Linked DNA regions of Homo sapiens. The protein of the gene in region 6 purifies or fractionates together with the protein of the main gene of each other region. This does not show direct contact. Each region holds a gene or a part of one and is shown on either strand. Other genes may lie near its edges.

What was found.
Region 1: the proteins of NOL10 (region 6) and DDX10 purify together in Homo sapiens (co-immunoprecipitation; 2 studies listed by BioGRID and IntAct, with this or other methods). This does not show direct contact.
Region 2: the proteins of NOL10 (region 6) and DDX47 purify together in Homo sapiens (co-immunoprecipitation; 3 studies listed by BioGRID and IntAct, with this or other methods). This does not show direct contact.
Region 3: the proteins of NOL10 (region 6) and WDR36 fractionate together in Homo sapiens (co-fractionation; one large-scale study listed by BioGRID). This does not show direct contact.
Region 4: the proteins of NOL10 (region 6) and NGDN purify together in Homo sapiens (co-immunoprecipitation; 3 studies listed by BioGRID and IntAct, with this or other methods). This does not show direct contact.
Region 5: the proteins of NOL10 (region 6) and NAT10 purify together in Homo sapiens (co-immunoprecipitation; 3 studies listed by BioGRID and IntAct, with this or other methods). This does not show direct contact.
Region 7: the proteins of NOL10 (region 6) and KSR2 purify together in Homo sapiens (co-immunoprecipitation; one large-scale study listed by IntAct). This does not show direct contact.

Annotation. Positions count from the first base shown.
Region 1 is NC_000011.10:108,663,815-108,667,868, forward strand, and holds the start of DDX10 (probable ATP-dependent RNA helicase DDX10), read left to right. Parts: upstream 1-1,254; 5' UTR 1,255-1,339; coding exon 1,340-1,525; intron 1,526-4,054. UniProt on the Homo sapiens protein: Putative ATP-dependent RNA helicase that plays various role in innate immunity or inflammation. Plays a role in the enhancement of AIM2-induced inflammasome activation by interacting with AIM2 and stabilizing its protein level.
Region 2 is NC_000012.12:12,812,091-12,816,145, forward strand, and holds the start of DDX47 (probable ATP-dependent RNA helicase DDX47), read left to right. Parts: upstream 1-1,255; 5' UTR 1,256-1,277; coding exon 1,278-1,364; intron 1,365-2,040; coding exon 2,041-2,134; intron 2,135-4,055. UniProt on the Homo sapiens protein: Required for efficient ribosome biogenesis. May have a role in mRNA splicing. Involved in apoptosis.
Region 3 is NC_000005.10:111,098,848-111,102,347, forward strand, and holds part of WDR36 (WD repeat-containing protein 36), read left to right. Parts: intron 1-1,741; coding exon 1,742-1,874; intron 1,875-3,497; coding exon 3,498-3,500. UniProt on the Homo sapiens protein: Part of the small subunit (SSU) processome, first precursor of the small eukaryotic ribosomal subunit.
Region 4 is NC_000014.9:23,475,688-23,478,673, forward strand, and holds the end of NGDN (neuroguidin), read left to right. Parts: intron 1-38; coding exon 39-91; intron 92-341; coding exon 342-465; intron 466-551; coding exon 552-720; intron 721-1,512; coding exon 1,513-1,669; intron 1,670-1,815; coding exon 1,816-1,873; coding exon of another isoform or gene 1,874-1,881; exon of another isoform or gene 1,882-2,319; coding exon 2,320-2,339; 3' UTR 2,340-2,486; downstream 2,487-2,986. UniProt on the Homo sapiens protein: Part of the small subunit (SSU) processome, first precursor of the small eukaryotic ribosomal subunit.
Region 5 is NC_000011.10:34,104,218-34,108,428, forward strand, and holds the start of NAT10 (RNA cytidine acetyltransferase), read left to right. Parts: upstream 1-1,411; 5' UTR 1,412-1,575; intron 1,576-3,993; 5' UTR 3,994-4,008; coding exon 4,009-4,116; intron 4,117-4,211. UniProt on the Homo sapiens protein: RNA cytidine acetyltransferase that catalyzes the formation of N(4)-acetylcytidine (ac4C) modification on mRNAs, 18S rRNA and tRNAs.
Region 6 is NC_000002.12:10,683,476-10,686,975, forward strand, and holds part of NOL10 (nucleolar protein 10), read right to left. Parts: intron 1,138-3,500; coding exon 1,092-1,137; intron 1-1,091.
Region 7 is NC_000012.12:117,524,991-117,528,490, forward strand, and holds part of KSR2 (kinase suppressor of Ras 2), read right to left. Parts: intron 2,130-3,500; coding exon 2,081-2,129; intron 717-2,080; coding exon of another isoform or gene 708-716; exon of another isoform or gene 584-707; intron 230-583; coding exon 1-229. UniProt on the Homo sapiens protein: Location-regulated scaffold connecting MEK to RAF. Has very low protein kinase activity and can phosphorylate MAP2K1 at several Ser and Thr residues with very low efficiency (in vitro).

The DNA.
Region 1 (4,054 bases), on a different chromosome or scaffold from region 6:
GTCTACCACATCTAGTGTTCCTGAGTGTGGAAATTCTCTTGTTCACCTCCTGTCCTCACTCCCTTCCAATAAGCCATGTCTTGTTTGGAGGATGGGCATAGAGTTGAGAGTAGTGATCTGGATATGTGGGGTTGGAAAGGAAATTTGAGAGCCCAAAATTCTGCCTGTGAACTTTGAACTCAATTTTCCAATCTCCTTTGCTACAGCTAAGCTCTCCCACCCACATCCGGTGTTTTCCTGGAGGCTGTAGGTAAATGTGTCAAAAAATTCAATTCATTGAAAGCCAGTTCACTTAAATGTCCAACTTGCAATAACTTTTCTATTACCTCCTTTTTTTTTTTTTTTTGACGGAGTTTCACTCTTTCACCCAGGCTGTGGTGAAGTGGGGCGATCTTGGCTCACTATAACCTCCGCCCCCGGGGTTCAAGCGATTCTCCTGCCTCAGCCTCCCAAGTAGCTAGGATTATAGGTGTGCACCACCACGCCTGGCTAATTTTTGTATTTTTAGCAGAGACAGGGCATCACCATATTGGCCAGGCTGGTCTCGACCTCCTGACCTCAGGTGATCCACCCACCTCGACCTCCCAAATTGCTGGAATTACAGGCGTGAGCCACCGTGCCCGGCCTCTATTACCTACCTCCTTACGTTTAGTTATCATTTTGTCTCCATAAAAGCATTTTAAGGCAAATTCAATTTGATTCCGTTCCAGTTTCCTTGCTGTTGCAGCTAGAGTCTGAGGGGCCCAGAGGAAAAGGAAAACCCAGAGGGGCATAAGAAGAATATAGAATATTCATTTTTATTCCTGAGGAAGTACAACCACCATGGATGGAAATCAGAAGTCACTAACTAGCTGTTTACTTCTGGGCAAATCTTTTGGCTCGTTGGCCCGAAAAGTGCAAAACGAGGGTCACAATTTTCATTCACAGATTGTATGTGTTTACACACATACTCACGAACGCTTAGCAAAGTTGAACCTGGAGCAAATGTGTTAATAGCCCTTAAAGGGTCAGTGTATGACGTCACCATAGTAACAACAACAGTGCGCATGCGTTTTTTTTTAAAGAGCCGGCGTGCTCCCGGCTCGGCTCAGCTCGCCCCCTTCCGTGGAGTGCTGCGCCCCCGTTTCCCCAGGCTGCCCCTCCCAGCAGGAGCCAATTCGCCAATCACAGCCCTCCTTTTCCTGACGTCATTGGCGCGTGCCCCGGTTTCAAAAGCTCGGGGGCGGGCTTCTGAGTTCGCGCATGCGCCTCTGTGCGTTTGTCCCATGCTGGTTCCGTGAGTCTGGCCTTAGGTGTCTCGTGTCTGGGGTTGATCCGAGCTGTCGCCGCCGCCGCCGCAATGGGCAAAACGGCCAACTCTCCGGGTTCGGGAGCCCGACCCGACCCGGTGCGGAGCTTCAATCGCTGGAAGAAAAAACACAGCCATAGGCAGAACAAAAAGAAGCAGTTGAGGAAGCAACTGAAGAAACCCGAATGGCAGGTCGAGCGCGAGAGTATCAGCCGCCTCATGCAGAACTATGAAAAGGTGAGGCCGGCGCTGGGGAGGGGGCTCGGGCCGGCCAGCAGCGGGGCAGCGTCTCACTGCGGCGAGGAGTTGCAGAGTGGAGGCGGCGGATCTGTCACCGGGACCCGGCCGGGAATGAGAGGTCACGCCGGGTGCCACAGCTCAAACCTCTGCACCGTTCTGGCCACTCTTCTGCTTGCCACACTGTTCCTAAAAAAATAATAGAAATGCGGCCGTACCTAAGGGTAGGGAGACTAATGCTGTAATAGCTACAGTCATATTCATATTAATAATACTGATGACAATAGTGGTAATAATGACACCTACATTTTTAAGCACTCACCATGTGCTTACAGTAATTGTTTGACTTGATCTGAGGTATGGATATTAATAATCCTATTTAACAGATGAGATAATTGAGGTTCTAAGAGGAATGAAACTTGTCCGAATCTTTCACGCTTAGTAGGTGGTGTGGAATTGGAAGCTAGATCCATGTCTTTCTAATCCCAAAGCCTTTGCTTTTAACCATGAAGCCAGACTGCATCCCTCAACATCATCTATGCTCCTTCCTGTGGCCACCTCATTTTCTCCACAGGCTTCATGTCCCCATCCAAGAATTGGCCTAGAAAAGCTGGACCGCTGGTCTGTTTCTGTCACCTATCATCCCCACATTGTAGCTGGTGTTCCCAGATGAGTATACCTGTAATGATCACTTTGACCTCCTGACTTCTTCCCCCAACCTCCAGACTCCACAGGTCTGTCAATTCCTCTTTTCCCTTTCCCTAAATCCCATGTTTGTTGGTCTTCACCCACATCTTTCAGCTTCTCAGCCCCCTTCTAGTGCAGTACAATCAGGGATTTAACAGATGGAACATTCTTGTAACTAAGGTTGCCATTGTAACAAATTACCACAAACTTGGCGGCTTAAAACAACAGAGATCTTGAGGTCAGGAGTTCGAGACCAGCCTGACCAACATGGTGAAACCCCGCCTCTACTAAAAATACAAAAAAATTAGCTGGGCCTAGTGGTGGGTGCCTGTAATCCCAGCTACTCGGGAGGCTGAGGCAAGAGAATCGCTTGAACCCGGGAGGCAGAGGTTGCAGTGAGCCCAGATCGCACCATTGCACTCCAGACTGGGTGACATGAGTGAGACTCTGTCTTAAACAAACAAACAAAAAAGCCCAGCAACAACAGAGATTTACCTTGTCACAGTTCTGGAGGCCATACGTCTGAAATCAGTTTCACTGGGCCAAAATCAAGGTGTCAGCAGGGACTTGCTCCCTCCAGAGGTTCTAGGGGAGAATCTGTTTCCTGCCTCTTGTAGCTTCTGGTGGCTGCTGGCATTCCTTGGCCTGTGGCTGCATAACTCCAGTCTCTGCCTTCTCCTGTGTCAGTCTATCTCTGTTCCTCTGTTATAAGGGCGCTTACGATTGCGTTTAGGGCCTACACAGATAATCCAGGATAATCACCCCATCCCAAGATCTTTAATTTAATCACATCTGAAAAGTCACTTTTGCCATGTAAGGTAACATTCATCCCTTCCAGAAGTTAATACATGGACATGAGTTGGGATCATTTTCAGCACCACATCCTAGCTCCACCATCTCAGCAGACCGTAGAGCTAGAAACCTAGGAGCAGTCTTAGCTACTTCTCTCTTACCTACTCTTATATCCAGTCGGTCACACTGCTGATCTGTTCTGCTTACATTTTTCAAATGCTTCTTCATCCCTACTGCATTGTCTTCAGTCCCCATCATCTCTTGCCTGGATTACTATAGTAAATATTGCTTTCAACAGGGATCAGCAAACTTTCTCTGTAAATGATAGTGAATGTTTTCAGCTTTGTAGTCCTAAGGGTGGAACTACTCAATTGTTCCCTTGTAATACAAAAGCTGCCATAGAAATACTTAAATGAATGGGTGTTGTTTTTCAGTAAAACTTTAATTAGTGAAACAGGTGGCTGATGGGCTTTGTCCCCTAGGCCTTAAACCTTTTAATTTGTCCTCTGTACTTCTGCTAGAATGATTCTTTCCAAGATGAAGATCTAATCATTTTACTGCCGATTAGAACCCTTCCTTGGCTCACAGTTACTTTTAGAAAAATTGTCAAATACAGCGTGTCAACATGTTCTAGTCTGCTGCAGAGTAAGTTATTTGTGGTCAGGCTGACCTGGTTTAAATCTCACTCTTCAGGTATTGGCTAGCCAGGTTTCTTCATCCCTCTAAGTCTCAGTTTCTTCTTTCAAAAAACCGAAGTTATTAGCCACCCAGAGTGTTGTAAGGCCCAAATGAGATAATGTGTATACACCAAGTGGTACATGATAGGCATATATGAAGGAACAGCTTGCAGTTTTGTGAATTGTACATGCTTCTTGTGCTTCTCATCCTGGTACTTGATGTTTCCACTGTGTGCAGTGAGCATACCCATCTGCCCACTCTAAGGAAAGGTACTCTTCCTTCAAGATTTAGTGCAAACTTCTCTTCATCACCTCCCCTGACCGAGTTAGGGCTACTGTGCATCTGTAGCATTTTGTAGATACCTTTATGACA
Region 2 (4,055 bases), on a different chromosome or scaffold from region 6:
CTTCTGTTGGATGTGTTTTAGCAGAATGTGATATCTGTGGGCCTATATTTTAATATACTTGATATATTTTATGCTTTTCTCACTAAGCACTAGGTTTTTCAGATCTAATCATATTGTTAAGGGCATGTTTGTAGACACCATGTTCACATTTTAACTATGCATTTTCCCAGTGACGGACACCAGATTGCCCCCAACTTCCCATCCTCAGGAATAAAACTGCAACGAGCACCCTGCGCAGTGTGAGACCCAAGTGACAGGCCACAGGAGGGCACTCGCTGGCCATGGGGCATGCAACATACAGCTCTGAATTTGCTGCTTTCCAGAATAGCCTTAGTAGCTTCACAGTCTTGGTACTTGGAATTCTCTCACTCTGGAATGATTATCTCCTGGGATCTTAAAGCGTTTTCTCCTGCTCAACAGTGAGGTCTTAACTCAAATATCACTGTCTCAGAGAGGCCTTCCCAATCTCACAGTTATCCCCACAACCCACCCTCCCCAGGTTACTCTGTAATTTTTATGTGAACAGGGTTTCACTCTGTTGCCCAGGCTGGAGTACAGTAGCACCATCTCCACTCACTGCAGCCTCAACTTCCGGGGTCAACTGATCCCTCAACCTCAGCCCCCTGAATAGCTGGGATTACAGGCGCATGCCACCATGCATGCCTGACTGATTTTTGCATTTTGCAGACACAGGGTTTCGCCACGTTGCCCAGGCTGGTCTCGAACTCCTGGGCTCAAGTGATCCGCCCGCCTCGTCCTCCCACAGTGCTGGGGTTACAGGCGTGAGCACACCCAGCTACTTTTCACAATTTGAAATGCTCTGTGATAGCTTATTTATGATCTGTCTTCTTTTTCTTCACGAGGGCAGGGGTCGCTGTCCTATTCACCAGCCATCTAGCATAGCCTTAGCAAATGGTAGGTTCTCAACATTATTGAATAAAGTAATGACATAATAAAAAAATAGTATTGTAATATCAATCCGTTCCAAACTCTATGGTTAGAAAAGCGGGGAACATAACTGGCGACACACGTAGGGAAGGCTCTTTAAAAGGGACCTAAAGGTCAACTGGAGTCCCTGGTGATCAGCCCCTTCTGCACTCGGATCTATTCCGCAAGCCTACGCGCCCATATTCACTGGGCCCCACCTGCCTAGCGGACGGGTGCAATCCCCGGCAAGCCCGCAGGGGGCGCGCAGAGCACGTCGTCCGGGGAGAACTAAAACTACATTTCCCAGCATCCCGCGCGCCGCAGACCCACTTCCGGAGACCTCACACAAGATGGCGGCACCCGAGGAACACGATTCTCCGACCGAAGCGTCCCAGCCGATTGTGGAAGAGGAGGAAACTAAAACATTTAAAGACCTGGTGAGAATGGATGACGCTGGCTTCTTTTATGTACTCTGGTGCTAGGCTCAGGGAGACCCCAGGTACCTTAGATCCCGCTCTGATAGTGTACAAAAGCATCTTGGGGCCTAGCTTGGGTTTTCCCCAGAATTTCAGAGGGCTGGGTTTCGGACGTGCTCTGAGTTTGGGTGGTGGGAGGGCTGCTGGGCCCTGAGACCCCCTATTTGCCCTATTCGCCACTTTAGTGTGGCAACGTTTGTATGTGCATCCAGGAGGTTGTACATATGGGGAATGGAATTGGTCTCTTTATAACTGGAGCTTTGGAGTCAGATGAACCAACCAGATTTGAATTTTGACACAGTCTCTTACTGAGGACAAGTTGTTACCTCTCTGTGTTTCTCTTTCCACATCTGTAAATTGGGGATAGTAATAAGTACTTACCTCGCAGAATTGTTGTGACGATTAAATGAGATGATACATGTAAAGCACCTGGCCTTGGCCTTGGTGAGCAGAAAGTGTTCGTTAAGTCTTGAGCTACTGTCTCATGGTATAGTTAAAGAGTAGGCTCTGAGATGCACAGTAAATACCTTTTAAATCAAATACAATGGTTGTACATGATGGGTCTGACAGTCAGTTAAGTAGGAGGGAGGTAGGGGTGTGCTGTTCTTGGCTAAGGTATATTTTTCTGAATTCCAAGGGTGTGACAGATGTGTTGTGTGAAGCTTGTGACCAGTTGGGATGGACAAAACCCACCAAGATCCAGATTGAAGCTATTCCTTTGGCCTTACAAGGTAGGTTGTATGACTTCGTACAGATTTAATATAAAGTTATCTCAATTAGATACCCCTTTTGAAAGCTGTTGCTTGCATACTTCAAGTGAAATAAGGATATGGTCACTAAAGGTACAAAGTTTGGGTAATGGTATTTGAAAATGTCATTCTCCAATTTTACTGAGCTTACTTTCTGTCTTAATAGCTGAAAGGGTTTGTTCTCTGCCACAGATGCTGACTTTAAGGAAGCCCTAGGTTAAAGTTAAAGTATATTAACGACAATCTTGGTAGACTTTATGCATCAGTGGGCGCACACTTAGGGAAGGATGCCTGGAACACATATGTGTGTCTTGAGGAGTTGAGAATTCTTGCTGTGAGCCATGTTTATCAGATTTGTAAAACAGTGGTTAAAGCAGATTGATGGCTACTGGAACTGAAACTAATGGGATGAACTTTTTTCTTTTTGAGATCTTTTTTTTAAGATGGAGTTTTTTTTGAGATAGAGTTTCGCTCTGTCGCCCAGGCTGGAGTGCAGTGGTGCGGTCTTGGCTCACTGCAACCTCTGCCTTCCAGGTTCAAGCAACTCTCCCGCCTCAGCCTCCCAAGTAATGGATTACAGGCGCATCACCATGTCCGGCTAATTTTGTATTTTTAGTAGAGATGGGGTTTCAGCATGTTGGCCAGGCTGGTCTCGAACTCCTGACCTCAAGTGATCTACCTGCCTTGGCCTCCCAAAGTGCTGGGATTACAGGTGTGAGCCACCACATCTGGCTGTAACAGGATGAACTTTAATAGGAGTAGAAGTAAAGTCCTGCTCTTAGATTCCTAAAGTACCAACTTTACAGGATTAGGGTGGGTGATAAAAGAGGCCCAGAGGTCTTAGTTAACTGAAATCTATTAAGATCCTCAGAGAGAGTGAATGTAATCATAGCAATTGTTATAAGAGGGGTAATGTGGCTAATTATTGTTAGTATTAATGTAGCTATTACTGTATTACTATATTATTAGTGATTAATGTAAGCTATAATTATTACTCATTAGTAATTAATGTAGTGATTATTATTGATAATAATTGAAAGATTTAATGATTTGAAGAGCTGTCATGTGGAAAAGGGGTTAGACTTACTCTACAAAATTCCATTTGCTCTTTCCATAAATAGTTACTATTTGTTGTAAATGTAAGGCACTGGAGGTTAACAGTCTGTCCTCTCCAAGAGTCTATAATCTATTAAAGAGATAATTATAAATTTATTACAAGTTGAACAGGGACCTAAGAAAGTTACATTCAGAGTGCACTGAGGGAGAAGAGATTACTTCTAATTAGGATGGATTAGAGAAGATTTATTTCATTTTATTTTTGGCTGGGGAGGTTGGGAAGACATGTGAGCTGAACCTTGAACACTGACTTTAGAAGGATTTAGACATTCAGATATGATGGGAGGGGAGGACTTTCTAGGCATAGGGAACAGCATGAAAAAAAGCCAACTGGAAAACATGGGCATGTATGGAGATTTGCAAGTACTTAGCAGAGTGGTGAAAAAGTTTAGTAAGGTGATTGGGGCCGGATTATGAAGGATTTGAGTGCTGGGTCAAGGAATTTGGTCTTCGTTTCATAGGCAGTGGGGCATTTTTGGAGATGAAGGATTTAGAGTTGTACTCTTGGAAGATTAATCTCATAGCTGTGAAAGATCATTAGAAACAAGAGACTGAGTCTGGGAAACCAATTAGTAGGTCTTTGTAATGATTTTTGCAATCAATAATGGGTAGGGTGGTGGTAGAATGAAAAAGAAAATGTTGGAAAAAGAATCATTATGATTTTACAACCAGTTAAGCAAGTGGAAGGCAAGGAAGGGGTGGGGAAAATCTAAGTTTCTAGGCTGTATGTTTAGGGCATATTATTGGTGTACCACTGATACAAAAAAGGAACGGGGGAAAAATGCAG
Region 3 (3,500 bases), on a different chromosome or scaffold from region 6:
TAACTCATTTATTTGCTTTATCTTAGGGTAGTATGTGTTTAATTAAAATTTAAAATCTATGTAAACATCTATGCCAGAGATTTTGCCTGTAAATAGTAAGAAATTAAAAAAATCAAAAATCTTTAACGTGTAAGAAAAAAAGTTCTAAGTAAGAAAGAGATAAACAACTTTAGCAAGTTAACTACTTATAAACTGTTTAATGTGCTTACCTCAACTAATGTATTTTCCATTGCAGTTCTCCAACTTTAATGATTTGTTGTATTGTTTTCCCTGTGGAGTGAATATTGATGTATTTTCATACCTGAGTAATTCTTGGTTTGTATTTTCACCTTTTAGTAAAGGAGACTGTAATAGTAAACTTGATCTTGTAATCTGAAGGAAAATATACATCCATTTCCTAGGGATATGAGTCAGTTTCTTTCAACTGTGATAGCTTAGACAGTGGCTATGTTTATGGGATTATGTATCTTTAAACATGAAGAATTTATCCCTAGGATATCTACACCTTTCCTCAATAAAATACTGGGTTCATCATGAATTGAATCTTTTAAGTTCTTTAATCTGGTTACATTTTTAGCTTATATTGCCTCTTGGTTTTTTTTTGTTTTTTTTTTTGTTTTTTTTTTTTTTTTTTTTTCAGTAAATATCCTGAAGATTGCATTTCTGGGAATTATTCCAGGTTCTTGTTTCAGATTAGTAACCCTTTTCTTGTTTTGTTTTTGCTCAAGTAGAGGGAGGGAACAGAATTCCAAAAGTATTCCCTGTGCAGATAGAAGTTAAAAGGGCTTTTATTAGGTTACAGGATCTGGTTCTTACATTCCAGCAGACTCTCTTGAACCAGTATATTCAGGGAGCCATTTGTAGTGACTGACGAATAAAGGCAAGGATCTCTTAAAATAGCATTCAAAGTAAAGTTTATATAATTTTCACCTATACCTGTACATCCTAAACTGTGGTACCCATACCCTGGGATTGTACAGTAGTGTGCCAGATAGTATGTGAACCTAAAGATTAAGTGAAATGTACCTTCTTTGATACACAAATTTACTGGAAAATAGAGTGGAACATTGTTTTAATCATGGAGGAACTGTAAAGTGAAAAGCAGAATTCAAACATAGAAATTTTGAATGTAACCAAAGATTTCAGAGAATTTTTTTATCTTGGAGCAAGTGACCACTGGTGATGCCACCCCCCACTCCACAGGGTTATACGTTTTTTTTTTCTCCTTTATTAGAGATTATTTTGTGGAAATGTGTGAGAAGTACTCTTATTTCACTGAGGTGTGTCTTTTATTTTTGGCATTTTTTGAGTGGCCCATCAAACTTTCCAGATAATTGGCTCTTCGTTCCCTGAAAGAGCTAAGTATAAGCACTTCACTTGGAATATTCACTCCTGTCTGTTGATCAAATTACAGAAACATGAATGCTAATCCTTAGGATCTTTTTTTTTTAACTTTATTATCCTTTTCTGTAAAGTAATTCAAAAGTGAATGAAACTTTTAATAGTATTTTTATTAGAAGTTACAGAAAATTTTTGACAGTCTAAATTAAATTACATTTACAAGTTGCCTCTCATTTATTTTATTTCTCAAGGAATGTTTATAGATTAGTATCTAAGTCTGTGGTTTATTTTAACATATAAATCTTTGATGTGATAGACTTACTTTAAGTGATAAATATATGGTTACATAAAACATTTTAAACTATTTTATAAAAAATATTTATAACTTTCACTTTTGTAGAAGAATACCTGCAGTTGACTTTTGATAAATCAGTATTTAAAATTTCTGCAATTTTGCATCCAAGTACCTACTTGAATAAAATACTTCTGGGCAGTGAACAAGGAAGCCTGCAGTTGTGGAATGTAAAATCCAAGTAAGTATTTTAGTTAGAAAATAATATAGCTGTCACCTTATCCTCATCTACTACTTCCTAATGTATACTTAAGTCTCATTTCTCCCTGCCCTTGTATATTTATTTGGAGGGTTGTCTATAAATAACAGTTGGTCCCCTGTATCAGAGGAGTCAATTAACCTGGGATCAAAAATATTCAAGGAAAAATAAATAAATAATAATACAACAATAAAACATCACATTTTAAAGTAGTACAGTATAACAGCTATTTACATAGTATTTACATTATATTAGGTCTTATAAGTAAGCTAGAGATTATTTAAAGTATATGCATAAATGTGTGAAAGTTATATGCAAATACCACACCATTTTATGTAAGGGACTTGAGCATCTGTGAATTTTGGTATCAGCAGAGAAGTTGGGGAAGTCCTGGAACCAATCCCCCACAGGTAGTGAGATATAACTATATGTTTGCTTTTGGAGTTGTTGCTGGTGGCATCACATATGTGAAAGGTGGCATGTGATCCTGACACATGTTAGACAGCTTCATAAATGCTCACTGAAAAGTATGTACTAATGACCTAATAACTGTAAAGAATTGCTATAGAGAAGGCTCTAATAAAGGTCTATGAGATCCATCAGAAAATAATAATAATGAGATTATTACTAGGGAGCTTCTGATTTTCCATACATGAAGATTTTCTATACATGAAGAAGGTAAAAGATGGAAAGGCAAATCAATAATTTAGTGCTAGCATTTAGAAATGATTTTTAGGGTTAAAAGTACTTCCATAATCTCCCATAGATATGGCAAATATCTAATATTGATGTAGCTAGAGGGCTGGATACATGATTTTGAATACTTCTATCCATTATGTAAACATTTATCAGTAGAAAAAGGTGGCAGCTCACACTTCTTTGTATAGCATTTTAAAAAGCAAACAAAAATATTTGACCATCCAAATTGTTTTTTTCCAAAGTCCTTTTAAATTCAAAAGGGAAAATAAGATTATTAAAGGTTTGATGTTTTAAATCAGTGTTTCATTACAATTTAACAAATACCATTGACTGCCTACTTTGTGCTAGGTTCAGCAATAGTGACTGAAATACTGTCTTTGCCCATTTACAGAATTTAATACATGATTTAATATTTTAATGATAATTATAATGATTTCAGATACCTCTGTTTGCTCCATGGATGTGTTATTTATCATTCATGACTTGCTTCTGAAATTGAGAGCAGCATTACTGTTGTCATATAACAGTCATATAACATGCAAATAATATTTTTATTAAAATATAAGTTATTCCCTTTCATGATGTTTCTATAAAGATACTGCAGTCCTAAATTTTTTTTACTGTAGCCTGTAATATAACATGATTTTTACACACGTATTTTTTTTTCCACTTAGGACATTTAATTTCTTAATGAGGTGGCATAGCATAGTAGTTAGTTTGAGACCTAGAATTTGTCTGGACAATATTACTAACCTTGTGACATTAGCTTAATCATCAGAATAGTGTGTGGAAGAGTAAGAACTTAATAAATATCACCTATTATTATTTCACTTTTTAATGTGTAGCTGATATTGTTTTCCTCCAAAAAAAAAAAAATACAGCTTTCAACTATTTTTCTTCTTGTAGTAA
Region 4 (2,986 bases), on a different chromosome or scaffold from region 6:
TCCAAATTTTGTAAAATTCATTGGGTTATTTATTTCAGGTGAGAATGACCCACTTCGTTTTAAGCCTCATCCCAGCAATATGATGAGCAAGGTAAGGGGTTGTAGTATTCTCCTGATTTTTTTCTGAGGCAGCTATACCTAGATGAGCCTCTTGGTGATCCTGGATACCCTGGGATTCTCTTAGGACTTGATTTTCCAACTTGTGTGTTAGAATGCTGAGTTTGAGATTCCCTTTTTTCCCTTTTTATATTCCCACCACCCCAGGGTACTCCAGCTTTGGGTTTTCTTCTCACTTATCTCATGAATGCTTCCTAAATTTGCAGACATTGTTTCTTTTGTAGTTGAGCTCTGAGGATGAGGAGGAAGATGAAGCAGAAGATGACCAGTCTGAGGCTTCAGGGAAGAAATCTGTGAAGGGAGTGTCTAAGAAATATGTTCCTCCACGCTTGGTTCCAGTACATTATGGTATAAACTTTGGCTGCTGCCTCCTCAGCATGAACTGTTTCTCTTTTCTCTGTTCTTGGATAACCCTGCTTATTTTCATCATGTAGATGAAACAGAAGCTGAGCGGGAGAAGAAGCGTCTAGAACGAGCCAAGAGACGGGCATTGAGCAGCTCTGTCATTCGTGAACTTAAGGAGCAGTACTCAGATGCTCCAGAGGAAATCCGTGATGCTCGGCATCCCCATGTTACCCGCCAGAGTCAGGAGGACCAACACAGGTCTGAGCCCTTGCATTAGAAATTATTCCTGCACTCTAGAGTCCTGTCCTCATGCTTTATACTAATGTGACTAAGTTTGGTACCAAGAGAATTAATGTTACATAGAAAATGGAGTGAAAACTTTGGGATGATAGTTTCTAAGAATCAGGAGTTTGGAGTTCAGGATAGAAACTAGGAAAATTTTTACCCCAACTGTTTAGTTCAAAGCAAAAGCAGTACATTGCAATTCGACATGAGATTTGAGGGGGAAAAAAGCAGTACAAAGAGGAATGTATGCAGTTCCACATAGTACAACTTTAAGATTCTGTGTTTCACTGTCACAGCTCTCACTTTTGTGCAGAAGGCAATAAAGGTAGGTTTTTATAGTGACATTGTGAGTGCTAGATAAGTTCAGGGAAGGAAAGTAGAAAAGCAGTGTAATTGAATACAGACTCGTCAACTTTGCTCAGGTGCAGTCTTTGCAGTTGATGGATTTGCATGAAAGGACACGTTTAGGGAAACCTGCTTATAGAGCTGAAATAAAAAAATTTTGGTGTAATATTTTAAATAATATTGTGGATAGGCTATGGATTCATATCTAGCATGAGGGAAGTTCTAGCACAGAGCACATTTCATTGAGGAAGCTCAGTATTGAGCATTCAATATGTCCTTACTAAATACTATGTTGATCTGCTGTGAAACTTCTTGAGAACTCCCTGAACAAGAGATGAGTAGATACTTGGGCCCAGGTTGTGGGCTGGAGCTTTCCATCTCCATGGTCTGAGCCTGCTGGAAACTGTCTTTCTCTGGCAGGATTAACTATGAGGAGAGCATGATGGTGCGTTTGAGCGTCAGTAAGCGAGAGAAAGGACGGCGAAAACGAGCAAATGTCATGAGCTCACAACTTCATTCCCTTACACACTTCAGTGACATCAGTGCTTTGACAGGGGGAACTGTTCATCTTGATGAGGTGAGGTTGAGATATGGTTGTAGTAGGATGTGACTTTCATGCTTTCAGCAAAATGTATGTGGGGCTTATTACCATGAGGAACTTGGGAAGGGATGCTGGCTCTCAGAACCACAGTGCCATTCCATCACTTCTCCATCTGTCTCCAGGATCAGAATCCTATTAAGAAGCGGAAGAAGATACCTCAGAAAGGTCGGAAGAAAAAAGGTCAGTGAACTGCTGGGACTTAGGTGATCAGGTGCAAGGTGGGGAGTACAAATTGAGTCTCTTTGGATTTGCCATTCTGGGTCTCACCAAGCCCTGTAGTATCTCTTCCATACTGGGCAATAATCTCCTTAGGTGGGCTTTTATTTTTTGCTTTCCTGAGCTGGAAATCAGCATCATTCACAAAATGAATCTCTGGATTCTGCCTCTAAGGTCCCACAGCTCCTGTTCAGGCTTCCCTAAATAGAACTGGTAAAGTGTCACTTGAAGGAACCATTATCCCATTTCAATTTTATTCCTACTTCTCGTCTTTTGTCCTGGGAAGATATTCAGGGTACTGCCTAGGAGACCCCACCCCTGTGAGCCCTTCCCTCTAGATGTCCTGTTTTCCTGTCCCTTTAGCTTTTCCAACTGTCCTTTGCCTCATTCTTGGTTTCCCTTCCTTTCAGGTTTTCGGAGGCGGCGGTGATTATGGGTGTACATATTTGTATATTTTTTGTCATCCTGAGATACTTCTAATTTCATTGTATATAGGTGGTTTTCCCTGGAATTCATTAATTGTTTGCTTTGGACATGTGGAAAGAGCCTTACTAATAAAATTGATTTTGCTTATGAATTAAAGCCCCTTTTTGCACATGTATTGTACGACTGGAGTCGTTGGGTTTGGGATATTTTTGGTGAGTGGTTGGTGAAAAGGGAAATTTTTTTTGGAAGTGCAAAACATTTGTATTGTTTTCTTTGATAATATATTTTTCCCAAAAACTAAAAATTGGTTACGTCACAAAAAGTATTGAGAGACGAGGCTGGTATAATCAACTCTTTCAACCCATGTTGCCACAACTTCCTGTATGATTTGTTATAATACAATACAGATTGAGATATTAACACATGAATTTTAGGTTTTATTAGTGTTATCTGGGCTGGCCACCAGGTGGCATAAGTGGTTCAAGAAACTTGAGCTTGGCTGTAATCAAAAGCAAGATAGAACCTTTCCACATCAGCAAGATTATTCTTATCTCCACTTCTCTGAATGTTTTTCATTTCTTTCTGAAATAGCATGAACATAAGGCTGATCTTTGGTCAGTTACTGAGGGAGTTTGTAGAAAATAGTAGAGT
Region 5 (4,211 bases), on a different chromosome or scaffold from region 6:
GTTGCTCAGAGCAAATGTTTTGGGTGCCATCTTCAATGTACTTTTATAACCTGCATCTAATCCTTAAGTGAGTCCACGTGGTTCTAACTTGAATATCCAGAGTTATCTTATACTTCTAACTACTACCACAACTACCATCCTAGCACAGGTGACTACAATAGCTTATAATTGTTCTCCTTTTTCTACTTTTGCCTTCCTGTGATTTAGTTTTTGCATAACAGGAAGCCTTTTAAGAGGGCAAAGCAGATTTTCTCATTTCCCTGTCCCCCACAAACTCCAGTGGTTTCTCATCATGACTAGAATTAAATTCTAAATCTGGTCCTTCACTTGCCCACTGCTTTGGCCACACTGACTGCTTTGCCAGGACTCCCCCATCTTGGAGCTTTTGTATGTACATCTTTGGCACGGGGAAGTTTTTCACTCATATTCTCAGGGCTCATTCTTTCTAAATTTCAGGTCCTTGTTCCATCCAGTGTCACCCCGTCAGAGGCCTTCAGTGTTCGTTTCTAAAATAGTATCCTTAGTCACTTTACTCACTGGATACTTCTGCTTAATAGCATTTAAAACTTAACCTAGAATTAACCACGAGGGGCAGGAACATTTTGGACACTATCCCTTGTGAGCAGAATAGTGCGTGGGCATATTCACATTTTGCTGAATGAACTAAAAAATTTCATGATGGATGTTGGATTAAATGGGTAGTGCTGCTGATGACATTAAAAGTGTATCTGGGGAAGGGGTTTGGATTCAGACATTTGCGGTATCCAGGAGGAAACATCAAGCAGTTGATAATGTTTTTTGAAGTTCAGCGATCTGCCCCAAAGTCAAGAATGCAACACTATGTATAGGTTGTCCCTGTAGTCATGTTCTTGGAGTTCACTGGAAGCCCAGGGGGAGTAATTTCATTTGACGACCATATACAGGCCTAATGGGAGCCTGCAAAGTACAGCGGCCGCAGTCATGGGTAGATTACAGGATTCCCATCTGTAAGATCAGTACTGTGGGGGTGGAGGGCCAAGCGAAACCAATAAAATAGGTCTGTTGGCCGAGTTTCCTCAACTTAACGGGGATCGGTTAAATTGAACACAAATCGTTGGATCCGTCGCGTTTCGCGTAACCAGGCTGACGCTGAAAACCCTGGACCTACGTGGGCAGGCCCTGGGGTGCGGACATCTATTTTGCCCTTCTTAGCCGAGGTACTTTAGCTGGGATATGAAGAGTGAAGAGGCAAACCGCAGCCAACACCCAGCTACCGCGAGCAGTGGGACTAAAATGCGCAACCGCAGTGGACATCTAGGCCTCAGCTCCGCTTCTGGTGGCTTACGTCATTACTCAGCGACAGCCTTGAGGAAGGTCCCTTCTCGCTCGCCATCTCTGCGACTTTAATGCGCTTGCGCACGTGCTGTCTACCAGTTCCTGAGAGGGACGCGTGCCGCGGAGCCAGGCTTACTACGTGACCCGGACACCAGGCATACGCTAGGGGCAGTCAGCTGTGCCTTCTCTTTCGGAGTTGTTCCGTGCTCCCACGTGCTTCCCCTTCTCCACTGGCTGGGATCCCCCGGGCTCGGGGCGCAGGTACCCAACGCGGGAGGGCCGGGTATGGATGCCAAGATCGGTGTCTGTGTTCTTCCTGGGTCGAGAGGGGACCGGCCTCAGGATGAAGGCTCTGCATCCGGACGGATACCTGGCCTACGCCGTTTGTCCTCCACCCCTCTTTTGGGGCGCTCCAAGATAACAGAATCACCTCTCCAATACGCAGCCGCTCTCGGCGCGTGCTTCTCGAGCGTCCTCGGGGATTTGCGTGGCTCGATAACCACCTCTAAGTAGTGCCTGTAACTGGGGAGTCGGGGTGAATGGGTGGGTGACAACAGTTGTTTTCCGTGGAGCTTGCCCGCAGTGCCTGGCTGCAGGTCTGGGCATTATACTTAGGGTAATCTGATTCCAGATCCTTCCACGTTCTTAAATCCTTCACTGTGCACATTCCTTTATACTCTTTATTCAGCAGTCACATTCAGGACTTGGTTTTGTTTGCCAGTGCACCTAAAATGGTGCCTGCCACATAGATGTTATGTGTAGATAGACGAATGAGTGAGCGAAAAATAATCATCTCCTTCAAGGCCTTCCCCATCCAGGCCTTCCATGACAGCTTCAGCCCATAGTAATCTCAGCCCTTCCTTCATCTGACCGGTCCCTCAGTATAGCTATTTTTTTTTTTTTTACATCTAATTTTACCTGTGTTCTTGTTCCTCATCTCATTCTCTTAAATACCTTCTTCAAGAAGAATGCAAGCTTGAAGTCAAGGGCCTTGTGGTACTACTTCTGGGGCTCCCACAGTAGCTAGAGCAAAAGGCAGCCCCCATTAATTAGTTGTTGATTGATTTTTGCGGGATCTTTATGTGGCCGGCAACACAAGGTTTACAAGTTGGGAAGATTGGCGAACTGGGAAGAGCTCAGGCTTTGGAGTCAGGAAGACTTGAGTGTGAATTCTGTCTGTCGTTTTTCTGCCTCGGGATATTTGAATTCTTTATACTTTCTCCTTTACGTATAAATTGGGGTCCTTGACAGTGACTTAGTGTTTTATAGTAAGACATATGCTAAAATCTGTTTGGATTGGAAGGTTAGAAGGGACAGTTAAGGTATGGTAAGTTTCAGTAAATGAGCTTTATGTTTATAATGCAGTAGGTACCAGAGTTTCTAAGTAGCATGTCACTTTTACATCTAAGTAGCATGTTACTTTTACAGTGATATTTCTGATGGTTTTTTTGATGTATTTATTGGGATGATGCAGTATTTTACTGTAGGTAATCACAGAACTTTTTTTTTTTTTTTTTTGAGACGGAGTCTCACTCTGTCGCCTAGGCTGGAGTGCAATGGCACACCATCTCGGCTCACTGCAACTTCCGCCTACCGGATTCAAGTGATTCTCTTGCCTCAGCCTCTCCTGCAGCTCCACTACCACTCCCGGCTAAGTTTTGTATTTTTAGTAGAGACGGGGTTTCGCCATACTCTTGAATTCCTGACCTCAGGTGATCCACCCGCCTCGGCCTCCCAAAGTGCTGGGCTTACAGGCATGAACCACCACTCCCGGCGAGAACTTTTGAGGTCTGTCTGTACAAAGGCTTCAATATCGTTTTCCCTAAAATGAGGAAACAGTTGGACACATTACATCATGGAATTATTCATTGATGGTTATTGATTTCCCTGACTTTATTAGTAACACGTGAATTTTTTAAGATTCCACAAAAACAAAAGAACAAAATAAAAGTCCCACCATCCAGAAGTAGCTACTTTATACTTTGGTATTTCCTTCCAGTCTTTTTTATTTTTCCCTCTGTTATGTGTATGCATAAGAAATGTTATCATACTTTATTCTGTCATGATCTTGTCATAAGCATCTATATCCATATCCTTAGTTGTTAAAAATGCTTGGCCCAGCATGGTGGCTCACACCTGTAATCCCAGCCCTTTGGGAGGCTGAGGTGGGCAGATTGCGAGGTCAAGAGATCGAGACCATCCTGGCCAACATATGCGCCTGTAGTCCCAGCTACCTGGGAGGTTGAGGCAGGAGGATTGCTTGAACCCAGGAAGCAGAGGTTGCAGTGAGCCGAGATCATGCCATTGCACTCCAGCCTGGCGACAGAGTGAGACTCCGTCTCAAAAACAAACAATGCTTTGGATATTTGGATATCTCCTTATGTATTTTAGTCATTCTTCTACTTTTTTGAATATACAAGTTTCTGGCTTTTAAAAAATATTTAATAGAGGTGAATTACAGGCTTTCCAGGCTGAGGGAAGGTTTTCTCACCTCCCAAGCCTAAGGTTTCCTGAGTTTAAAACTAGAGGCTGATGTCTTCCTGTGGAGCTCGTAGAGGGTTAAGTAAGACAATACTTATAGATATGCCTAGCACAGTCCCAGGCCCCACAAAAGGCAGCCAGCTAATGTTCCTTAGACAATCTAGTGCGCATGGCCAGTTGTATTTCTTTCTCTTTTAGTAATAATTTTTCACCATGCATCGGAAAAAGGTGGATAACCGAATCCGGATTCTCATTGAGAATGGAGTAGCTGAGCGGCAAAGATCTCTCTTTGTTGTAGTTGGGGATCGAGGAAAAGATCAGGTATGGCCTGGTAAATGCTTCCTGAATTACTTTTTATCTTGTCCAAAGAATCAGCATGTTTAAGCACTCTGCTGTTTCAGGACATAATGGCATTA
Region 6 (3,500 bases):
GATACACAAGAGAGCAAAGCAATTAGGGACCTGTTAGGAGAGACAGTCCTCCTTGGACCTGCATGCTTACTGGGTATGGCGAGATTGCAAGACCCCAGCCACTCTTACCTGAGCCATTTCTCAGGGTTGTTTACACTGCTGAGAACCTTGATAGACAGGTAACCTGTCCCTTCTGGACAAAACACAGGTTTGCTTACTGCTTGCCAGAAAAGCAGTGGACTTCCCAAGCTGTGTTGCTCGGCCACAACGCAAATCCACTGTGTGCCAAGCATCCACCTGGACTGTGCTAAGTGTCCCCAGGAGACCCAAGAGGGGAACTGGCACAAATATGCTGATGTTCATGCTATCTACTGTGCTGTGAGTAATAACATCTGCATTTCTAGCCCAGGAGTCTTGCGTCTACTATTGTTATCCATGAAACGGTAACAGGCTAACTTATTAGTTAATAAGGTAAAATCAAATCCCATACCCACCAGGAACATACCAACCACAACAAAAAGTTTCTTAAGAAGGAGAAAGGCGGCCGGACGCGGTGGCTCACACCTGTAATCCCAGCACTTTGGGAGGCCAAGGCAGGTGGATCACCTGAGGTCGCAAGTTCGAGACCAGCCTGACCAACATGGAGAAACCCCATCTCTACTAAAAATACAAAAAAAATTAGCCGGGCGTGGTGGCTTGTAATCCCAGCTACTCAGGAGGCTGAGGCAGGAGAACTGCTTGAATCCAGGAGGTGGAGGTTGCAGTGAGCCGAGGTCACACCATTGCACTCCAGCCTGGGCAATAAGAGTGAAACTCCATCTCAAAAAAAAAAAAAAAGGAGAAGAGCTGCGTACAGTGGCTCATGCCTGTAATCCCAAAACTTTGGGAGGCCAAGGTGGGAGGTCTGCTCAAGCCCAGGAGTTAGAGACCAGTCTGGGCAACACAGTGAGACCCCATGTCAAAGGAAAAAAAAGAAAAGGGACAAGAGCATTCATTTTCCACTACATGTTACCGCATTCTTATAAATCCTCACTTATATATAACAGCAAATGAGTAAAAGCATTAGAACATGGATCACTAACGCAGCTGAAGTGGGAAAAAACAATACTCACCTACATCTTTCTTCTGTAGCGCTCTCTTCTTCCTATCAGAAAGCCACTTAAAGAAAATGAAGAGAGTTTATTTTAAAACAAATTTAGCTAAATTGTTTTTCGGCTTGCAAAATCAATACATGCTTATATTTAAAAATTCAAACTTCATAGGAATATATAACATAGGAAGCAAAAAATATTCTCTAATCCTAACTCTACTCGTAACGTATTAAATATCTCCTGGATTTTTTTTCTTGTGTATACTTACATACATTAGATAATTTCTTTTATTTTTACTTTTTTAGAGACAGGGTCTCATGCTTGCCCAGTCTATAGTACAATGATGCGATGTGACTGTAGCTCACCGAAGGCTCAAACTCCTGGGCTCAAACAATCCTCTCACCTTTGCCTTCCAAAATGCTAGGTCTACTGACATGGGCCACCAGGCCCGGCCAGATAAGAAATTTTTTGAACTACAATCTTTTACATAGAGAAAAACTAACCCATCTAAGCAATCTAAAGGAAAGCAGAAAGCCTCAAATATTATGGGTTATAACTAAATATATGGAACAATTTAATCTATTTAAGTGAGAATTTAAAAAGTAAAACATTTATAGGAGAATGTTTCTTATAGAAATATATTTTTTACAAGGAATAAAACCAGATAAATAACTGACCAAATAGCTGATACTTGGCCAGGCATGGTGGCTCACGCCTATAATCCCAGCATTTTGGGAGGCCGATTGAGACCAGCCTGGCCAACATGGTGAAACCCCGTCTCTACCAAAATACAAAAAATTAGCTAGGTGTGGTGGTGGGCACCTGTAATCCCAGCTACTCGGGAGGCTGAGGAAGGGGAATCACTTGAACCCGGGAGGCGGAGGTTGCAGGGAGCTGAGATCTTCCCACTACACTCCGGCCTGGTGACTGAGAGAGACTCCGTCCCCCCCCCCCCCCCCCCCGCCAAAAAAAAAGAAAAAAACAGGCTTAACCACTAGAAAACTAACGAAAATAAATTTAACGGCATTAAAAATACAACAAAAGCTGATTAACTCCAGAATGGGAGACTGTAGGTCAAATTGTGTGAATAAAAATCGTAGCCCCAAGTCAAAAGTGTGATGGAGCTGAAAATGAAAATTAACTTTATTCATCAATACATTAAACAAATATTTATTTAGTACTACTAAATGCCAGTAATTAGGTATAGCAGTAGTAAATAAAACAGGAGGGAAAAAAAAGCCCTCTTGGCCAAGTGCAGTGGTTCATATCTATAATCCCAGCACTGAGGCAAGGGGATCACTTGAGCCCAGGAGTTCGAGACCAGCCTGGCAATAAAGTGGGATCACTGTCTCTACAAAAAAAAAAAAGCAGCTGGGCATGTTGGTACACACCTGTAGTCCCAGCTACTCAGTAGGCTGAGGTGCAAGAATCATTGAGCCCAGAGAAGTCAAGGCTGAGGTGAGCCATGATTGTGCCACTGCACTCCAGCCTGGGCAACAGAGTAAACCTGTTTCAAAAAAAAAAAAAATTTAAAAATCTAAAAACCCCTCCTTTCATGAAGCTTTCTTTCAAGTGAGGGAACACCAACAAATAAGGAAGTAAAACAATTAGAATGTCAGATGGTTATGTATGCCATGGAAAAAATAAAGCAAGAAAAGGAGACGAAGTGTTGGTGGAGAATTATAATTTTGAATAAGGTTAAGGTCCTCTTGAGCAACGACCTGAAAGGCATGAGGAGGCAAAGCCTGGAGAACATCTGGGAAAAAAGCAGGCAGGCAGGACCTGTGCCAAGGTCCTACGGCAGGAGTGTGCCTGGTCTCGAGCAGTGAGACTTGTGAGGCCAGTGTAAGGTGGAGAACAGTGACCGCTGAGCTCAGAGAGGAGGGCAGGAAGGCACAACATCAAGTAGGACCTTAAAAGTCACTCAAAGGACTCTGCTTTTCACCCCCAAGAGAGCAGGAGCCACTGGACAGTTCTGAGTAGAGGATCACCCTGGCAGCTTACTGATAACAGACTGTGGAATAAAGGGGTAGAGGGTGGAAACTGAGAAACTGCTTAGAAGTCAACTGCAATAACTGCAATTGCATAGTCAGGGGTGACAGTGTCTTGAATCAGTGACAGTAATGGAGGTGACTGGATTCTGGATCTATACTGAAGATAGAAGCAACAGCATTTTCTAGTGGATTGTATGAGAGCAAAGAAACAACAACAAAAAGCCTCCAGTGTTTTTGGCATCAACAGCTTGCGGGATGGAGTTGCCACTGGCTGAGGGAGGGAAGACCACTAGGTTGCAGGAGGGGGAAATGTGGGGGGAAAGCTGGTGTTCTACTTTGGACAAGTTAAGTTTGAGATGCCTATCAGACATCCAAGCGGGGATGTCAAGAAACAGTTGGATACACAAGTCCAGTTCAGAGTAGAGGTAAGGGCTAG
Region 7 (3,500 bases), on a different chromosome or scaffold from region 6:
TCAGCCGGATGGCCACCTCGCCATGCCAGCGGCCGTGGTACACTTGCCCAAAGCGGCCCTTTCCAATGAGCTCGCCGATCTCCAGCTGCTCAAAGGGGATGTCCCACTCCTGAAGGAAGATGCTGGTCTGGCTGGCCTTGCGTGGGAAGCTCCGGGCCGAGAGGAGGGACAGGTTCATCTCCTCGAAGTCATCCTCTGACTCTTCGGCCTCATCATGGACCTCTTCATTCTGTGGCCGGAGTGGGAGAGAGGTCAGAATTGTGTCTGCCACTGCCCCAGCCTCCCTCATGGTCCTGCTGGGTCCCGTGCACATGCGTAGGTCTGGGCACATCTCTACATGCATTTGGAGCTTGTGCAGACATACGTCCCTCTGTTTCCCCAGCTCTAGAATCTGGTCTAGAATCATACTACAGTGAAGGTGCTGAAAGGGAGATCATGATCATCCACCTCTCTTGTGCTAAATGGGGGGATACTGAGGCTCAGAGAGAAGTGTTATAGGGATCGCCCATTCTAGTTTGCTGGAATCTTCCTGGTTTTAGCACCGAAAGTCCCATATGTTGCCCTGGGAAGTGACTCACTCCAGGTCATGCAGCCAGGCAGAAGAGGGACTAAGATCCAGGTCTCTGGACTTGAATATCCGATGGCCTTCCTATTCTTCCATAGTCTTTTGGTTTGGCTGTTTACGTGCATGTGATAAAGTTGACAGGCTAGACAGGCTAAAACAATGGGTACATCGTGCATCTGCATGTAACACATGACAACTGCCAACATGGAGTATCTTTTGCTTCCCCCAGGGAATTTGGAATTGATGATTCAAAAACTGGGAGAGGTCAGAGCTACAAGCTAGCTGTCTGAGGCTCCTACAGCAGCTGGGAGGGTAGGAGACATGAGAGTGAGGGGTTAACAGAATGGGCTTAACAATCAGACAAAGAGAGCTGAAATCTGGCCTCTGTATGACCTTGAGCCAGTTGCTTTACTTCCCTGAGGCTGCCTTTCCTCATTGTAAAGTGGGGGTAATAAAATCTGCCCCAGGGCCGGTGTGAGGTTTTAGATGAAGGCCTGTTAAGTTCTTTGTACAGACCTGACCATCTGTATTAAACACCGACTGGGAGGCCCGAGAAAATGCAGATTCCTGGGCCCCACCCAGCACTATTGGATCAAAATATCCGCAGGCCAGGACCAGGAATCTGCATTTTTATCATGCACACACACGACTCAGGCGTACTTCGGCGTAACTACCACTAGAGTTAAATGCTCAAGGTGTAGGGACCCACCTTATCAGCATGATATCTAGGGGTGCTTGGGGGCGAATTGCCTCTTGGATTCTCCTGCAGAATTGTGGGAGCAGCAGGTGGCCAGGGCCAGCGGGGATTCCCAGAGACCCTGGGACCTGATGAAACAGCCTGAGAAGGTGGCTTCTTGACTGGGTACAGCTCTTCCTGACCCAAAATACCTGGGCAAGCTGCCCCTGATGGCACATTCAGGAGAAACAATACAGGGGACATTGATTTCTCCCGGGATCATTTTTCAACAACCAAAATAGTCCCAGAAAAGAACACGATTTTCCTTGGAAGCCCTGACTCAATTCCTTTCAGTATGAGACCCAGAGCAGTTGCAGAGCTGAGGGGCCAGGACTCCATGGTTTCCAGCCAGGGCATTTCATGTATTTCTGCAGCCACTTAGGCAGGTGGGAAGAAGCCCCAGAGCATTCTCAACACTTCTAAGCCCAGCATCCCTGAGGCCCCCACCTCTTCCCACATATTCTTTTGAAGGCAGCGGGGCACATCCCCCTTGGTATTCACCCGGCCCTGAGCTGATCTTTCCACTAAGAATGCAAATCTCTTGACAATTTCCACACAACTGGCTTTTCCATGATGCATGCCATATAATGGCCCATTAGACTCAGTGCTGGGAGGGACCACTGCTTGCTAATTGTCCCAGAGTTAGAATATCCATCAGTCAGGGCCACCACAGCCCCCACCTGACCCCAAGCCCTCTGCGTCATCCAAAACGTCAGTCGGCTTTGCCAAGTTCTGGGCAGTCCCTGGAAAATGTCGCTTCACTGCTCTCTGATTCTCACCTCCGACGTTGGCTCCACTTCAATTTGAAGTAATGGATTTCCTTCCAAGCTGTAAAGAAAGAAAAATAAACGTGATCCCTAGGTGAAAAGGCAGGTCTATATATTGAGTTTAGCTATGTACGAAGAATCCCCAGATCGGAGGTCTTTACCACCAAGTCTTTATCTCACATTTCATTTCAACAGGTGTGTCTGAAATAATCCATAACCTCGACACACACACACACACACACAGACACACACACACACACACACACAGACACACACACACACACACACAGACACACACACACACACACAACACAGTGCGCAAGGACCTTGTTTTAAGTTGATTTTCCGGGCTGCTCAGGGCTCATTTTTCTTCATTGCTTTGGTTTCAACTTATCTAGCAGCTTTCTTATAAATTGGCCTAAATGCCCTGGGTAGATAAGTCCTCAGAGCTGTATATGTTTGCCAGGAAAGAATTAATCAGATCTCCGAAGTTCACACAAATTTGGAATTTCTTGGAAGGATCTCAGTGTTCTTGTTTGTCTGTTCATTCATGCATTCATGCGACTATTTAATAGATGTGTGTGCCAGGAACAGTGTTAGGCCCTTGGAGGGATATAGAATTGAAACTGGCACGGCTTCTGACCTTCAGGAATATTGTGTTCCTACTGAAGGAACTAAAGCCAGTATGTAGATACTATGCAGGGAGGCTAAAAGTAATAAGGCCAAAAGTTAGGTGTGAATTGGATAAATGGAGTGTCGTGGGAATTCCAAGATGAGAGAATTACTGGGTGTATTTGAAAGTTCCCAGTGTTTGAGGTAGGTCTTGCCAATCACATGGAATTAGGATGTGTGGAATGAAAATAAAAAGACCATATTGAGCTGGAAGACACAAGTGTGTGTGTGTGTGTGTGTGTGTGTGTGTGTGTGTGTGTGTGTGTGATGCATTCATAAGCTCATGAGCTGCAGTTCTGTTCTTAGTAAGCAAACATGTTGGGTATAGATGCTGGCGGGGCGTCACAATTTGTGTGAGCACTGCATAGGTATTATGGGATGTGCTTTGTGCAGGGTTGTCTTGTGTGCATGTGAGTTGGGTGTACACACAGGATGTTGAGGGGGATGCTGTATGCCGATAGTATAATTGGGTGTGCATTAGAGGTGTGAGGGGACTGTCAAATGCATGTGACATTTGACATGTGATGGATGTTGGGTACAGTGTGCATTAGAGGTATGTTGCAGGGTTTAGACTTGAGGATGTGCATGTGTTTTTGAAGTGCAGCAGGGAGACAGAACTGGGCTATTGAAGGCATGGAAGAGCTGAGACAGGTGAGAAAAAAGAATCACAATGAATACCCCACCCCTCCTTTCCTATTTCCCCAGTAGATTCCCCCTTCCCCATCCTCATTTGGGGGACCTCCCCTATCCTGACCCTCAG